Linked DNA regions of Homo sapiens: region 2 is linked to region 1. The links come from fine-mapping of genetic effects on gene expression. A gene starts in region 1. The other region holds a variant in brackets. All regions are shown on one strand. Distances are between the middles of the regions.

What was found. PIP is the estimated chance that this variant, and not a neighbour inherited with it, causes the effect.
Region 2: its variant is fine-mapped to the expression of DOCK8 in whole blood (TwinsUK, PIP 0.95).

What each region holds. Positions count from the first base shown.
Region 1 is chr9:211,457-219,456 of GRCh38, forward strand. DOCK8 (dedicator of cytokinesis 8) reads left to right here and starts at 3,409. Exons shown (of 48, transcript NM_203447.4): 1 at 3,409-3,573. The coding sequence starts at 3,521. It overlaps DOCK8-AS1 (DOCK8 antisense RNA 1), which reads right to left and starts at 4,294. Exons shown (of 1, transcript NR_160804.1): 1 at 2,001-4,294. RefSeq lists silencers at 3,164-3,413, 3,424-3,473, 3,524-3,573, 3,744-3,883.
Region 2 is chr9:272,531-280,530 of GRCh38, forward strand. The region is part of intron 2 of DOCK8 (dedicator of cytokinesis 8); the gene reads left to right. Among named protein-coding and RNA genes, the nearest start is that of DOCK8-AS1, 61 kb to the left of the region's middle. The variant G/C (reference allele first, on the strand shown) is at 4,195.

The sequences.
Region 1 (8,000 bases):
CATCTAGTGATAGAAACAGATGAGATAGGAGAAAGAAGAGGCTACAGGCAGTGAAGCCATTTAAAATCTTATTTTTGTTATCTAGGTATTAATTTATAAGGGCTGGACCGGAATGAAAGCCACTGTGAGAACAGTGATATTTACAAAGAAGTGATATTTATAAGAAATAAATGGCAGACCTTGGTAGGTGATTAGATCTGAAGGACACAGGAGGAAAAAAAGTTAGAGCTGACGTATTTCTAAAGTTCAGAGAGAGGCAAGCAGATGGAGTCATTCCAAGATACAGGCCTCTGTGATCCAAAGACCGTGTGACTTACTCGGGATTACACAATTAGCAAAAAGCTGAAGCCAGAACCCAGATTTCCTGCTTTTCCCTCCACTGGATGACTCCAAAGTTTTAAACCTGGAAAATGAGGAAGTAGTGTGCCACCACCGACCCCCCAAAAAATGTGTGATTATGGAGAGATAGCTAGCTTCCAGTTAAGTAGGGTAGATGGAGAATTTTAGTTTTATACTGGAGTTTGAAGATGTTAGAGTACAGAAATCTGGGAAATAGGCAAAACTTTAGGATAGGAAATGGCTCTGCCCTTACTAGTTTGTAATCTTGGTCAAGTCACTTAACTTCTCTAAGCCTCAGTTTCTCCAGTTGCAAAGAGGTATGTGTGGGGGGGTTAATGTTATTATTTAATGGTTGCTATGAATTAATTTTTATAAAGGACTTGGAGCAGTACCCGGTACAAGATAAGTGTTATTTAGTTGTTTGTTCAATAAAATAGGTAAGATGCAATGTAGAGAAAGAGGTCGGCTTTCTGGGGAGGTAAGAAGAAGATGTGGGGAAAACTAGAGCATTTAGGATAATTGATGTATGGTCTGAGATAGAAGTCAAGGGAAGAGTTGTATAAAGGTGAAAAACAAAATTGAATGACACAAAGATACGGAGAAAGAGGAAGGCCAAGAGAGACCATCAGATGCGGAAAGAAGGAGGCCTCCCAGAGTTCTCTCTGGACAGAGGGCTGATGGAAAACGAAAGAGGCAGTGAGAATAAGGAAGAAAGGCACTTGGATGGCTATTTGCCAGCAATATGTGAATGTATCTAACAGCAGATCAAACTTGAAAACAGGCATTTGACTAAATTAATGGATAACACATTCATGGTGAATTGTTAAAAGAGTGTTAAGGAAATCTGGAGACAATTCTAACCATCAAGAAATTGACAGCACAGAGGATAATAATGCTGGCCTAACCTTCATGGTTAGGTACCAAATACTAAATCTATTGCAGTATGATCTGAGGCAAGATGGAAGGTTTTATGATTCCCACATTCACCCAAAAAGTTTCCTTGATTGCAAATGCTGAAAATCTGAGATGCTTTCATTACATTTTATTTATGTTTGTGTGAAACCAGTATATTTTTGTTCTATATGAAAATGTATGTCATAAACATTCAGAAATTCAGAGGAGTTCATCCGAAAGGCTGACATGGTACACCGTGGACCGAAGCCTCTGGGGCAAAATGTTTTCTATGTATCATTCGTTGAGTCTCAGTTTGAAGAAGTACTTACACATTTGTTCTCTTTGTATTTTGCTATCCAAATGTTTGCTCATAAATTCCAATGTAGTAAATAAGGACAGTTTTGAAAGTCAGAAACTCTAAATTTCAAAAAAGCTTTATTTTTCTTTGGGTTTGTTTTCGTATGTAGTCTATTGTAGTCTATGCAGTGAACTTTGTCTTATATGCTTAAAAGGGCACTGATATTTGGTGGGCATTGGGGGGCGGGGAGTTACCTAACCAGTACTGAAAAGTTACTAAACTACCTGACACAGCTGAAACCAGGAAGGAAGGCTGTATCAGGAAGAGACTGAATATAGTCCTTAGGTGGATTTTAGTATTAGGTGACAAATTAGGTTGTATTGGACTGGCACTGTCCAATAGGAATATAATGAGGCTCACAAATGTGAGCCACATGTGTAATTTTACATTTTTAAAAATGCAAACCACATTTTTAAAAGGGGAAAACAAACAGGTGAAATTAACTTTAATAATATATTTTTTATATCCAAAGTATCATTTAACATGCAATCAACATGAAAATCATTAACAAGACATTTTACACGATGTTTTCTGCGCTGTCTTTAAATTCCAGTGTACATTTTACACATCCAGCAGTGGGCAATTCAGACTAACCATAATGCCGAGTGGTCAATAGCCACATGTGGCTAGTGGCTATCATATTAAATAGTGCAGGTTTGAACCAAAAATACTTCGCTTTGGTTGTTTTTTTTTTTTTCTTTTAGACGGAGACTTGCTCTGTCGCCAGGCTGGAGTGCAGTGGCAGATCTCGGTTCACTGCAAGCTCCGCCTCCCGGGTTCAAGTGATTCCCCTGCCTCAGCCTCCCAAGTAGCTGGGACTAAGGCGTGCGCCACCACGCCCGGCTAATTTTTTGTATTTTAGTAGAGACGGGGTTTCACCACGTTGGCCAGGATGGTCTCGATCTCCTGACCTCGTGATGCGCCCGCCTCGGCCTCCCAAAGTGCTGGGATCACAGGCGTGAGCCACCGCGCCCGGCCTGCTTTGGTATTTTTTAAGAGCAAGTTGGTAAATGGAGGCATTATATGGAGAGTGCTCGAGTATATATAGCACAGGTTAGAGCAGCACGCCGGCACCTTGAAGCGAACACGGGCTCCTCCACTCCCGTCAACACTGGGACTTTTCTGTTTTTATCTTGAGTTTGAGGCCGGGCTTCTTAGCAGACCTCAGTCTGAAACTGAAATAAACCTGGACGCAGCGTACCCTTGAATCGCAAGAACGCCGCCTTCAGTGTTTCTCCGGAGAAAAGCATTCACGCCAGGTTGTGACGAAAACATTTTTTGAGAACTCATAATGTTTATTCCTTGGATGAATCCATTATATTTATTTAGTGTCTCAGGAAGGATGATGGGCATATTGCTTGCAAAAGTTGATTTGAATCCTGATAGATTCCACTAACTTTTTTGTCTTTTTTTTTGGCTGCCTTCTTCGAGAATGGTGTCAACCCTTAATAACACCTAGCCTTACGAATCCCTGGGGTGATTCCCGACCTCGCCAGCTTTGTGGGGCTCCCCCGACTTGCCTACATTCCCTGGCAGCCTCGCAGCTTCGGGCAGATGGAGCTTCCGGCCTGCGCGCAGTGGTCGCCTGTCGTCCGCCCGCGCTCCCTTCGGCCGGAGGTCGGCGGCCCCGGGCAGAGCGCGCCGTCTGCCCCAGTATCGGGAGGCCAGTTCCGCGCTGGGCCCACGCCCTCCTCGCCCGCCGCTGCCTGCGCGCCAGGCCGGGTGGCGGAGCCGGCCGTCGCTGCTCCGAGCTCGGACCCTCCCCCGGGGTGATTTCGGCTTAGAAGGTGGAAATGCGGAAGTTTCCAGCGCCGACCGACAGACGAGGTTTGCGCTTGGCTGGGCATGTTCCGCGGCTACTCTGCGGCGCGCCAGGCCCCCGCTTTCCGCACCCCGCGACCCTAGAAGCCACCGAACCGCCGGCGGGCCATGGCCACTCTGCCGAGCGCAGAGCGCCGCGCGTTCGCGCTCAAGATCAACAGGTAAGACGCCCCCCGCGGCGCGCAGGTTGCGGCCGGACAGCCCAGCGCTGGTGTGAAGCGGAGCTTCGCTGCAGGGGCCGAGGCCGGACGAGTCCATTCGCGTCCGCGGCGGGGCGCGCCTGAGACCTGGGGCGCCCGGTTCCCGAGGCTGCGGCGGTGGAGCCGCTGGACGCGCGGCGGCTCCTGCGCTGGGCCCGGCGAGGTCCTCCCCAAGAATCTCGGTGCTCCTGGATGTCCTCAGCCGCCGGGGATCCCTTCCCCGAACAACCTCGCCCGCTCCGCCCTCCAGGTTCTTACAGGTGGCCGGGTCCCAGAAGGGTGATAGGCGCCTGGGTAACCGTGTTGGGCGCGCCACGGAGTGTCTCATAAACGGCTCCTTCCTTTGAGGCAAGTCTGAGCGCGGGGGGAAGAAGTGAAGTGGCTGAAATTAGAGTTGCGTTTGAGGCAGGCTGCAAGCCTTCTGTCGTCCTGAGCAAGGCTCCGTCCTCGCCTGCTTCATTATTCCAGAAAGAGCTTGGCTCCTGGTGGCATCGCTATTTTTATACCCTGGTCCAAAGGAGCCATGAAGTGGAAAAAGTGATTTTTTAAAAAATCTACACTTAAATAAACCAAAAGAAATGGCCTGTGGCTGACATTTTGAGATTTACAGAACTCCAGCAAAAAGCTAAGGACTGGGGGATCCCAACTCACCATCCAATTCCTAATCAAAGTTGCACAAACTAAATATGTAAGCACATTTACTGCTCAAAGTTCTCAGTAAAGGTGCTTTAACTGCAGTTTTTCCTCCACTAAAAACTGCTGACAAGTAATTGGGACATTTTTGTCTTGCCCTGAGAAAGCTAGACTGTCTAGTTAAAAGATAATAGGAAACTCATTCTAAAGTGTCAACTTATTCTATTGCCCACAGGGCTGTCCGATTTGTTAATCTTCACTTAGCTGAGCCTGTGAAAGGTGGATTCCACCGTAGGTTCATCTTTGTGCTGTTAGTGTGTGAAGAGGTTTGAACAAGGAATTAAAAGCCTAGAAAAACAAGGCGATAAGGTCTTCTAGAGGGCATATCGAGCTTTATTGACGATTTTATTTCCACTTGATACGTGACTGCCAGCAAACTGTTTCTCTTACCTTACTATTTCGTCATCTGTAAAATGAGTTTAATTATTTATGTATATTGCATATTAATGTTGGAGGCCAAAAGGTACTAGTCAAAAGGCATAAAGAGGCTGGGTGCCATGGCTCACACCTCTAATCCCAGCAATTTGGGAGGCCCAGATGGGAGGATTACTTGAGCCCAGAGTTTGAGACCAGCCTGGGCAACATAGTGGGACCCCTGTGGCTACAAAAAAATAATTTTAAAACATTAGCCAGGTGTGGTTGCATGCACCTGTAGCCCCAGCTATTCAAGAGGCTGAGACAAGAGCATCGCTTGAGCCCAGGAGGATCACAGCTGTGATCATGCCACTGCATTCCAGCCTGGGTGAGAGAGTGAAACCTTGTCTCAAAAAACAGACAAAAAAAAAAAAAAAAAAGCAAAAACAAGGCATGAAGTATATCAGGGATCTCCCTATGGGAATTTTTTTCTACATTAAGGTTCATAGCTGTTGCATGCCAGGAGGGGTAATTCATTCAAGGAGTATAGGGAATCAAACTGAAGTTACTGATGGGTGTATTATTTGCTATAGCTCCTGATCCTCTGTCTTTGTGAATTTTAGATCAGGAAGTGTGACTGGGGCAGAAAGATGTTAGAAACTATGGGGTTGGGCAGGGTTGATCTGGGGTGAGTGGCCGAGACCCGGACTAATCCTACAGGCAGTCTTGCAAGCAACTGCGGGGTCGGTGTCACCTGGGGGTTAAGAATAAAGGCCCTGGTTAGTGTCTGATCTGCTTGCAAATTGGCTCTCTGCTACAAAGTCACTGTGCAACATTGGACATGTTACTTAACTTCTCTAAGCTTTGGTTTCTTTATGTGCCAAGTAGAGTTGATCATAGTACCTACTTCTTATGACTGTGGGGAGGATTAAATGAATAATAGGTACAAAGTCCGAATTGCCAAGTGCTGGATGTGTAACATACACATTGGAATTTAGAGACAGTACAGAAAAAATAATGCAAAATGTCTTGTTAATGATTTTCATGTTGATTGCATGTTGCTTGTAGTGTCTGGCTCAGAATAAATGGTGAATAATTCTTAGTTGCCATCATTAACATTACAATCAGCTTCACTGCTGTCATTATCTCCATCATCACCATCTTTGAGAGCCTAAGATAGAAAGGTAGGAAGGAAAGCTGAAGTTGGAGAGCTTCAGGCAGAGATCAGTTTGGGTTAGGTATGGAGATGCCAGTGGCTGGCTGGGAGCTTTCTTGGGGCCAGTGTTTCTCCGCCTGTGCCTTCCATCTGGTGCTGAGAACCCAAAACACATTCAATGGAAGAAAATATGTGATGAAATCTGATCAAGAAGAGCCCCCTCAAGTTTAATAAAGTATAAAAGGTTCTATAATCCTCAGGCAAGAAAATGGATTGGAAATTCGTATTCTTAGAGTTCTGTTTTCCTTTTTGAAGCACTCTGTGTGTTGTGTGGGAGAGTTATGCTAAGGAGCTTGGCAGAAATTATTATTCAAAGGAGCAGATTAATAAGGACATACCTAGTATTCATATATCATTTAATTTCACCATTTATTGTTTACTTATTGTGTCCCAGACACTATATTATACAGTTAATGGATTTTATGATTAAATTCTCACAAAAAGCCTATCAAACTCATGAAGTCTTGTACAGAAGAGGAAAAGGAATCTTGGAGATACAGCTGCACAAGGCCATGTAATTTTTTCAAGACCATACAACCAGCAATGGCAGAGCTGGGATTGCAAACTGCTCCAAAGACTGTGCTCTTAATTGGGCCGATTGTTATTTTGATGCATATGTATCCCAAGAATTTCCTTTAAAGCAAGAGGGGAATTAATTTTTAAAAAATCATCATTTTGGTAGCAGCATTGGCAAAGTGTTCTGTTTCTGATTAGTGTTTAATATATAAACATTAACAATGTGATGTTTTGCAATGTTGAAGGTGGAAAAGAAATGTTTTCCCTTACGTGCCTACCTATTATTTTTTTTAAATAGGTCAAATTCCAAAAGTAAGACTGTGTTGAAATATGGCCATTAGTACATTCAGCATGTGCTCATGTTTTTCACCTTACTACTCAGAATAGTGTAAACTATCTCTTAAAAATATTTGTGGGATAAAACCAGTGTGCTTCCTGTTAATGAAGTATTCAAATCTGATATATTAAAAATATTATTTGTAAAGCGTTCAGTTCTGACCACACCAGTCTCCAGAAGGAGTGAGCAGACTATCTCACAGTCTGAGAAGAAAGGTGAAATTAATTTTCTTGTAAGTGCTATATACTTGTCTTCATTTCCATTTTTTTGTTGCTGACTTGCGTGCCAAGGAAAGACTAGATCTAAGTTAGGCAGTTCGTAATAACATTTGCGTTTGGGATTTCAGGTGCTGCTGCATTAAATGTCATAACATGGTACTTGTGGGAACATCTAGTCTTGTTAATTGCCTTTTTTCTTACTGGAATTTAGTGCCTTTGTAGATTATAAAAATTATTACTAGTACTCTGAAAATTTATTAAACAAAATCTTAGTGTCTTTCAAATACAGAATAGATGTAAAATTTGATCAAATATTAAAGTAAAATAAGAACCTTGGATAAAGAGGACGAAAGTGTAGAATGCAGAAAAAAACATTAACCCTCTTGTGGACAGTCAGGATTGAAAGGAAGAAAAAATAATGGCTTACACTTCTAGAATGCTTTCTATGTGGCAGAGACAGTTCTAAATATTTACATATCGTAACTCATTCACCTCTATGAGATAGGAGCAATGACTATCTCCGTTTTACAGATGGAGAAACTGAGTGCAGAGAAGATATAGAAATTGTCCAAACTCACAAACAACTAATTAAGGTCACAGCTGAGATTCAAATGCAGGCAGCCTGGCTCCAGAGTCTTCTCTTTTAATCATTATACCATGCTGCCATCTCAGTTTTATTTTAAAATAATAATAGGTAACATTTATTAATTATTTACTATGTGCTACATATTGTGCTAAGAACTTTATATACCTTCATTTCGTCCTTTCAGAAAAGGAACAAACAGAGCTGGGTGCACTGGCTCACGCCTGTAATCTCAGCATTTTGGGAGGCCAAGGCGGGACGATCACCTGAGGTCAGGAGTTCAAGACCGGCCTGGCCAACATGGCGAAACCCCGTCTCTACTAAAAAATACAAAAATTAGCCAGGTGTAGTGGTGTGCACCTGTAATCCCAGCTACTTAGGAGGCTGAGGTGGGATAATTGCTTGAACCTGGGAGGTGGAGGCTACAGTGAGCTGAGATGTGCCACTGCATTCCAGCCTGGGCGACAGAGT
Region 2 (8,000 bases), 61 kb after region 1:
GCATGCCACCACACCTGGCTAATTTTTGTACTTTTTGTAGAGACAGGGGTCTCGCTATGTTGCCCAGGCTGGTCTTGAACTCCTGGGCTCAAGCGATCCTCCTGCCTCAGCCTCCCAAAGTGCTGGGATTACAGTGAGCCACTGCACCTGGCCCTAAACCTTCATTTTTAAAACACATTTCCTCTTAAATTGAAGATTGCCTACATTTTTATATCAATGCCAATTGTTGAGTGTGCCTATATGTGTTATATTATTTGAGCACTAAATGCCAGATGTGTGCCAAGTGAGATAAATCTGACAAATGAGATGGTTTGTAAAACCAGCAGTGAATATTCACTTCCTCTGTGAGAGAGCTCCAGCCCTCCTGTACTCACTTCCTCACACAGCACAGCAGCACTCTTGCTGGTTCTGCTGCTTATCTTGAAGAGGTTAGGTTACTTTTTGTTTCTACTTATTACTTCGAAACCACTTCTGCCTTAGAAATTTTGTAACCTTCCGCTCAGTTTCCGGTAACCGCCATTTTGTCTCCTGTAACAATTTACGCGCCGTGTAACTGTGAATCTTTCAAAGGTATGTTTTACTGGAGTGATTTCTGGTTATTTCAGAAGGATAATTTGTGTGTTGCGTCATTAATGAAATAGTAGTACGAAAAACCTATAGCATCTTTTACTGCAGGAGGTAACTTTCCATGCCATTTTTTCAGAAAATCTACTTATGACTTCAGTGGCTTGCTAGACTGGCCTTTTTATTTGTACTTTTCCTGTGTTTCAGAATTGCAGAGTATAATAAAGGCATGTCAAGTGCATATTGTGTCCATTTTCAGGTATATTAGATAAGCTTTACACCAAGATAAATTAGATATGCTTATTGGTTTAATTTGTGCTAATATATATTTAATTGAAAAATCAAAAAAATTTTTTTAAATTGACTGAAGTTGTATTCCAAAACATGCAAAATTTAGTTTAAAATAGATTGGATACACTTTTAAATTTTAAACAAGGTAGAGGGTTTAGTGCTTTGCTTTTTTAAAAAGTAAATGAAGGCTGCAGCTTTCTGCAGTAGTTGTCTTGGGAAGTAGTGTGGACATCACTCCTAAGAGACGTTAAGGAAGTTTAGCTAACAGGCTTTAACCCTTTCTCTCCATACCAGCTTTTACTCTTTTTTTTTTTTTTTTGAGATGGAGTTTAGCTCTTGTCACGCAGGCTGGAGTGCAATGGCACCATCTCGGCTCATCGCAACCTCTGCCTCCTAGTTCAAGCAATTCTCCTGTAGTTCAAGCAATTCTCCTGCCTCAGCCTCCCGAGTAGCTGGGATTACAGGCATGCACCATCACATCTGGCTAATTTTGTATTTTGAGTAGAGACGGGGTTTCTCCATGTTGGTAGGGCTGGTCTCTAACTCCTGACCTCAGGTGATCCGCCCGCCTAGGCCTCCCAAAGTGCTGGGATTACGAGCATGAGCCACCATGCCCGGCCACCAGCTTTTACTTTAATGCCACAGCCTTAAATTTTCTTTCAGGAGAAATTATTTTATGTAAAGTTACAAAGGAAAATAATGCTTAATATCTGTAAGCATTCGTTTGGTAAGTTTGCTGCCTCCTCAGTAAGTTTTGATGAAAGTGAATTTTGATGAATTACTACCTTAGCCGGGTAGTGACGTTAACATGTGGCTTAGCTGTCCATTTTCTAAGATATCAAGAAACCAGCAACAATAAGTAAAATTGTTAAATTATGCAAGAATCACATGTTCCTACCTGTCATCATTTAGTCTTGGTTCTATTTGCATGTGAATATCCTTTAGAATATATTACTCCCAGTTATTCCGCTTTACTTTTCTGAATCTCTTTTCCCATCTCTTGACTTCAACTTCAGTATATGGCTCTTGTTCCTTCTACCTGGAGAACGGAGGCATGTGGAAGCCCAGAGGATTGAATTCTTTTTTTTTTCTTTTCTTTCTTTTCTTTTTTTTTTTTTAGATGAATAGTCTGCTTAGGAAATCCATCTCCATAATGTTTACCTGGTATCGTGTTGTAATGTCAGAATGAAGTGGCTGTTCTTCCCCTTGAGTCATCGTCCCGAATGAAGGTTCCCCAAAAGAAATCATCAACTTATGTGGTGATTTCCTTTTACCTTTAAAAAAAAATTTCTTTTCATGGAAAGATAATGGAACATGTCGGTAAGATTCATTTCTAGGAAGGCAAAGGAGTAGTTTATCATCTAAAGACTCTCAACCTAAAGCTGTTTTAGAAAACTTTCCTTAAAATGAGAAGCCGTAGGTTTTCGTTGCATTATTTTGGCTAATTGAAAAATAAGACCAAGTGCGTTCTGACCTTCGTTTCTCTTACCTTTATTTTTACAACCACCATTTCAATGGCCCACTTGCTGATACAAATGATTGTTTAATTTTAAAAAGCATTTAATTGAAGTCAAGTTATTTAGAACCTAATCATTTACACGTCTTTGTTGTTGCTGCTGTTTTGCAAGAGTGAAGAGCTTGGAGTCAGGTGAATCTGGGATGAGGTACAGTTGTCATTTATTAGTCATGTAATTTGTGACAAGCCACTTAATCTCTCTGAAGACTTCAGTTTCTTCATTTGTAAAATTGGCATAATAATGCTGTCCCTAGTAGGGAATATAGAATTATATAATGGGTCCTTTGTATATATTGGCTAGTATTGCTCTCTTACGATTTGGCACTATGGAGACACTGTGGGAGATTAAAAGAAGATGATGAATAAAAGGTGACTTCAGCTCTGAAGGGCTTTATGATCCATTTGGGAGAACAGGTAATGTAGAATATACTGGCTTCAAAAGTGGCAGGTGTTTAGAAGAGAAAAGGATACATGATGTGATAGGAGGCAAAGGCTTGATTGAGAAGGCTGAGAAGACTTAGAGTAAGGGTTCTCAGCCCTGACTGGACATTAAAATTATCTAGGGACAATTCAATCAGAATTCCTGGGGGTGGGGACCAAGCATCAGTATTTTAAAGTTCCCTGGGGACTTTAACTTGAAGCCCAGGTTGAGAATCATTTAAACAGCTCTGTTATTTATTTATTTAAAATTTTAATGTATTTTTTGAGATGGAGTCTCGCTCTGTCACCCAGGCTGGAGTGCAGTGGCGCAATCTTGGCTCACTGCAACTCCTGCCTCCCAGGTCCAAGCTATTCTCCTGCCTCAGCCTCCCCAGTAGCTAGGAATACAGGCGTGCACCACCACAACTGGCTAATTTTTGTACTTTTAGTAGAGACAGGGTTTCACCATGTTGGCCAGGCTGGTCACAAACTCCTGACCTCAAGTGATCCACCCACCTCGGCCTCCCAAAGTGCTGGGATTACAGGCATGAGCCACTGGGCCCGGCCTAGTTTTACTTTTTTTTTTTGTAATGGAATTTCCCTCTGTCACCCAGGCTGGAGTGCAGTGATGTGATTTCTGCTCTCTGCAACCTCTGCCTCCTGCGTTCAAGTGATTCTCCTGACTTAGCATCCTGAGTAGCTGGGATTACAGGCAGCTGCCGCCATGTCTGGCTAATTTTTGTATTTTTAGTAAAGACGGGGTTTCGCCATGTTGGCCAGGCTGGTCTTGAACTTCTGACCTCAGGTGATCCGCCCGCCTCGGCCTCCCAAAGTGCTGGGATTACAGGCTTGAGCCACTGCGCTCGGCCCATTTAAAAAAACTTTAAAGGTAGACGTATTCCAAATGGGGGGAATATATAAAGAAAGGTAACACTTATTTTGCCCTGTGTGCTTTGAATTTCAGAAGGTGTAGTAAGCAAAGACCACTTACTAACCCTACAGATATATCCTTAGAAAATACAGTGGTTTCTGTCATAAATCTGATAAATCAGATGAGAGGAAGGGTGTATGTTTGATGTTGATTTTTCTTTTTGTTTTATTGGGGTTTTTAAAAACTATAAATATCAGGTCTGATGACTATGTGTATAAACATTTTCTAAGTAGATAAAATATTTTCAAATTTTGCATTTTTTAGTATGAAGGGGATCCATCATTTGAAGTTGGTTTTCTAGATGTGATGATAAACTTGTCCCAGGTCTATTTGACACTCCTACCAAAATCCTTTGTGACCAGGGCTAGAAGGCAGCTGTGGCTAGTAAATAACCCTGTGTGTAGACTCACTTATTGGCTTTGGCATTCTCTATTGCCACAGCTGTGTGAATAGATTAACCAGAGACCCTCTG[G/C]TGCCAGCCACCTATTCAGGCAAACAAGTCTATAATCAGTACCTCTGTTAAAATGAAACTGTAATATACTATTGTCTTTTCATTTATTTATTTATTTATTTAGAGACAGGGCCTTGCTCTGTCGCCCAGGCTGGAGTGCAGTGGTACAATCTTGGCTCACTACAACCTCCGCCTCCCAGGCTCAAGCGATTCTCCTGCCTCAGCCTCCCAAGTAACTGGGACCACAGGCGCACCATTGCGCCTGGCTAATTTTTGTATTTTTTTTGTAGAGACGGAGTTTCTCCATGTTGTCCAGGCTGGTCTTGAACTCCTGAGCTTCAGTGATCTGCCTGCCTTGGCCTCCCAAAGTGCTGGGATTACAGGTATGAGTCATTACACCCGGCCTATTTTCTGATTGTTCAAAGTAGAAGCCAGGCACAATGGCTCATGGCTGTATGTAATCCCAACAATTTGGGAGGCAGAGGCAGGAGGATAGCTTGAAGCCAAGAGTTCGAGGCCAGCCTAGGCAACATAGTGAGAACTCATCTCTACAACAAAGTTAAAAAGAAAAATTAGCCAGGCATGGTGGCACATGCCTTTAGTCCCAGCTACTTGCGAGGCTGAGGCAGAAGGATCACTTGAACTCAGGAGTTGGAGGCTGCAGTGAGCCATGATTGAGCCACAGTACTCTAGCCTGGGCAACAGAGTGAGACCCTGTCTCAGAAAAGAAAAGAGAAGAGAGGAGAAGAGAAAGAGAGAAGAGAAGAGAAGAGAAGAGAAGAGAAGACATACAAAAGAAGAGTAACATACAAGAGAAGAGTTAGGAGACCCTGTCTCAGAGGAAAGGAGGGGAGGGGAGGCGAGAGGACAAGAGAAGAAAGAGTTAGGATCTATGCCCTAAGGAAGTAAGGAGGATTTGAGACTGTGTAGGTGGTTAATAACCTTAAGCTACATATTTTATGGAGGGAAAAATCCTATTTTTAAAAGTGAGAATAGAACAATTTTGAAGTGAAATGGAATGAATTAGCTGGACCATAACGGCTCTGACTGAAGAAAAGGATGTAAAAAGCCACATCCTGGATATGTACCAAACACCATGGTTACATGGCATGTTTGTATATGTAACATTTATTTAAAAAAAAAGTCTCATAGCTTAGAAGGCATTTATTTTTGTTATGTGTATAGGCTTCTGTGCAATAAAGCAGCCTTTTTTATTTTACAGCTCATGATGACTTAAATGGTTAATTGCCTGATAAATATGGTCCTCTTTTATTCTTCTGATTCTGTTGTTCTTTTGCACTTCATCTTTCAAGGGGTTGGGCTATTCTTAGGTTTCACTGATTGCACTGGAAGGGACATGACGGAAAATGAAGATCTCAAGATAATTTTCTTGCAAATTCACAATGGAAGATAAAAGGAAAGAGTGGCAGGCATTCTGCACACAGAGCAGACGTTTCTTTATTGTCATTGTTCAGCAGAGGAATCAACTCAGCCTTGGTGAAACTAGAGTGATGCCCATGGTGGCATGTCAGCATCTCCCTCTTAGTGGCATCAGTGCTAGATTGTTGTTGTTGGAAGCAGGAGAGTGTTTAGTCCATAAAGTACAGAACTTCGATATCACAGAAGCTAGAAGAACTTTACTGCCTTCAGCTTCGTTTAAAGATAGTAGAGAGCTTACTCATTCGTTTTAGAAATATGTATTGGGTCTCTATGTCAGGAACTGCTGGCACAGCAGTGAGATTGAAGATACAACAGTGAATACAATAGAGGGCCTATCCTCATAGAGTTTGCCTTTCAGAATGAGGGACAGACGCAGACAAATAGAAAATGTCGATTGTGTCAGGGAGTATTGAGGGCTTTGAAGAATGAAATCGTGACCCAGAAGAGATGCTTTTAGATTGGATCATCCGTGAAGGCCTCTATCTAGAAAGGAGACACTTGGGCAGAATTCTGAATGAACTTGACGGACATCTGAAGGAAAAATATTCCAGTCAGAAGGAACAGTACGTGCAAAGTCCCCAAAACTTCAATAAGTGACGTGCTCCAGAAGCAGCAAGGAAGCAGAATGAGGCCTGAACAGAGTGGGCAGTAGGAAATGCAGTCATAGAGAAAGCAGGGCTGGGTCACAGGCCTCAGAGACTGTAGAACATTGGCTCCTACTCTAAGACAGGAAGCTGCTGTGAGCATTGAGGTTGGGCGTGGAACCATTTGACTTTTTATGAGGATCACTCTGGCTGCAGTGTGGAAAATAGACTGGACGAGGGAGGGCAGTTAGGAAGATGTCACGGTAACTCAGGAAAGCAATACCGGTGCTTTGGACGAGGGTGGTGGCAGAAGAGAAAGTGAGAAGTATTCTGGATATATTTCAGAAGAAAGTGGATAGGATTTTCTGATGGGTGATATGTAGAGTGTAGGAGAAAGAGAAGAAGCAAGATTGACTTTAATGTTTTCCACCTGGGCAATTGGTGGACTGGAATTGCCACTTGCAGAAGTGTGGAGGTATGGAAGGTATGGGAAGAGCAGATTGCCAGGAAAGTTGAGTTAGTTTTGAACTCATTGTGTTTGAGAGGTCTGTTAAATTATCAAGTAGTGATGTTGAGGTGTAATTGGAAAAGTCAACCTGGAATTTATGGCAGAAGTTGAGGCTGCAGATATAAACTTGTAATTTTAAAAATGTATATTTAAAGCCATGGGAGTGAATGAGTTCATTTGAGATTGAATGCAGATTGAGAAGAGATTTAGAATTGAACTCCAGGGCACTGCATAGCAGGAGGAAAACCTAGTAAAAGTGGTATCTGTAAAATAGAGGAACGAACTGTCACAATTTGCCTGGTACTGAGGATTTTCTCAGTACATGAGACTTTAAGAGACTGGGACACCCTGAGACAATTGGTTGCCTTCCATGGGAAGAAAGTATGTCAAGAGGGAGAGAGTGAACAACTGTGTCCAATAAACCAGGACTGAGCAAAAACCATTGAATTTGGCATCATGAAGTCTTAGGTGACTTTGACAAGGCTTGTCTGTTGTGAACAGCCAAGTAAATGTGAGGACCACTCTCCAAAAGGTAAAGAAACATGCATGAGGATACAGGTGCGCCAGCTGGAGACATCATGCCTCTTCCCCGTCCCCACCAGGAGTGGCGTGAAGCCTCCCCAGTGCTGTAACGAGGCAGCCAGGTCCTGTGTGACTGCACATGTGACTTGGGGCAAGTCATTTAACCTCTCTGTTTTCACTATCCTATTTGTGAAATATTGTTTAGATTTGTGGTTTGAGTCAGCTATCTGTATACTACACTGTGTTAGGAGCTATGTAGATTAATTTTCAACAGATATGGTTCTGGGGTTGTAGGAATTTTCAATTTGAGAACAAATTGAATCTTACCCTTTGTCAGGAGAAATAGCCTTTGACATGTGTTAGGGGCAAGGGAAATCTCAAACTTGCTTAATTTTAAAAATGAATATTTGGTTGTGGATAATTTAAGCTTTGGTGATATTTCTAATTATTTTTTGTGTGTTTCTAGTCTACTGACCAGAAGTCTGAAAAAAACAACTAAAAAGAAAGACTGCATAAGCCTTCACTAGAGAAGTATTGAAAATTGCTTGAGGGAAGTGACGGTTTCTTTAGCCTAGTGTCTGTAGGACCCCAGTGTAGTGTTTGTTGAATGAATGAAAGGAGGCGTATCAGTCAGGTTCACTCAGAGAAACAGAAGCTGTAGGAAATCCATATGGATGTGTGTGAAGGTATTGGCTTGCCTACTGCTGGTGTGTGGCTAAGCGAGCTTAAAAGTCCGCAGGGCAGATAGTCAGGAAGGAAATATTCCCAACAGA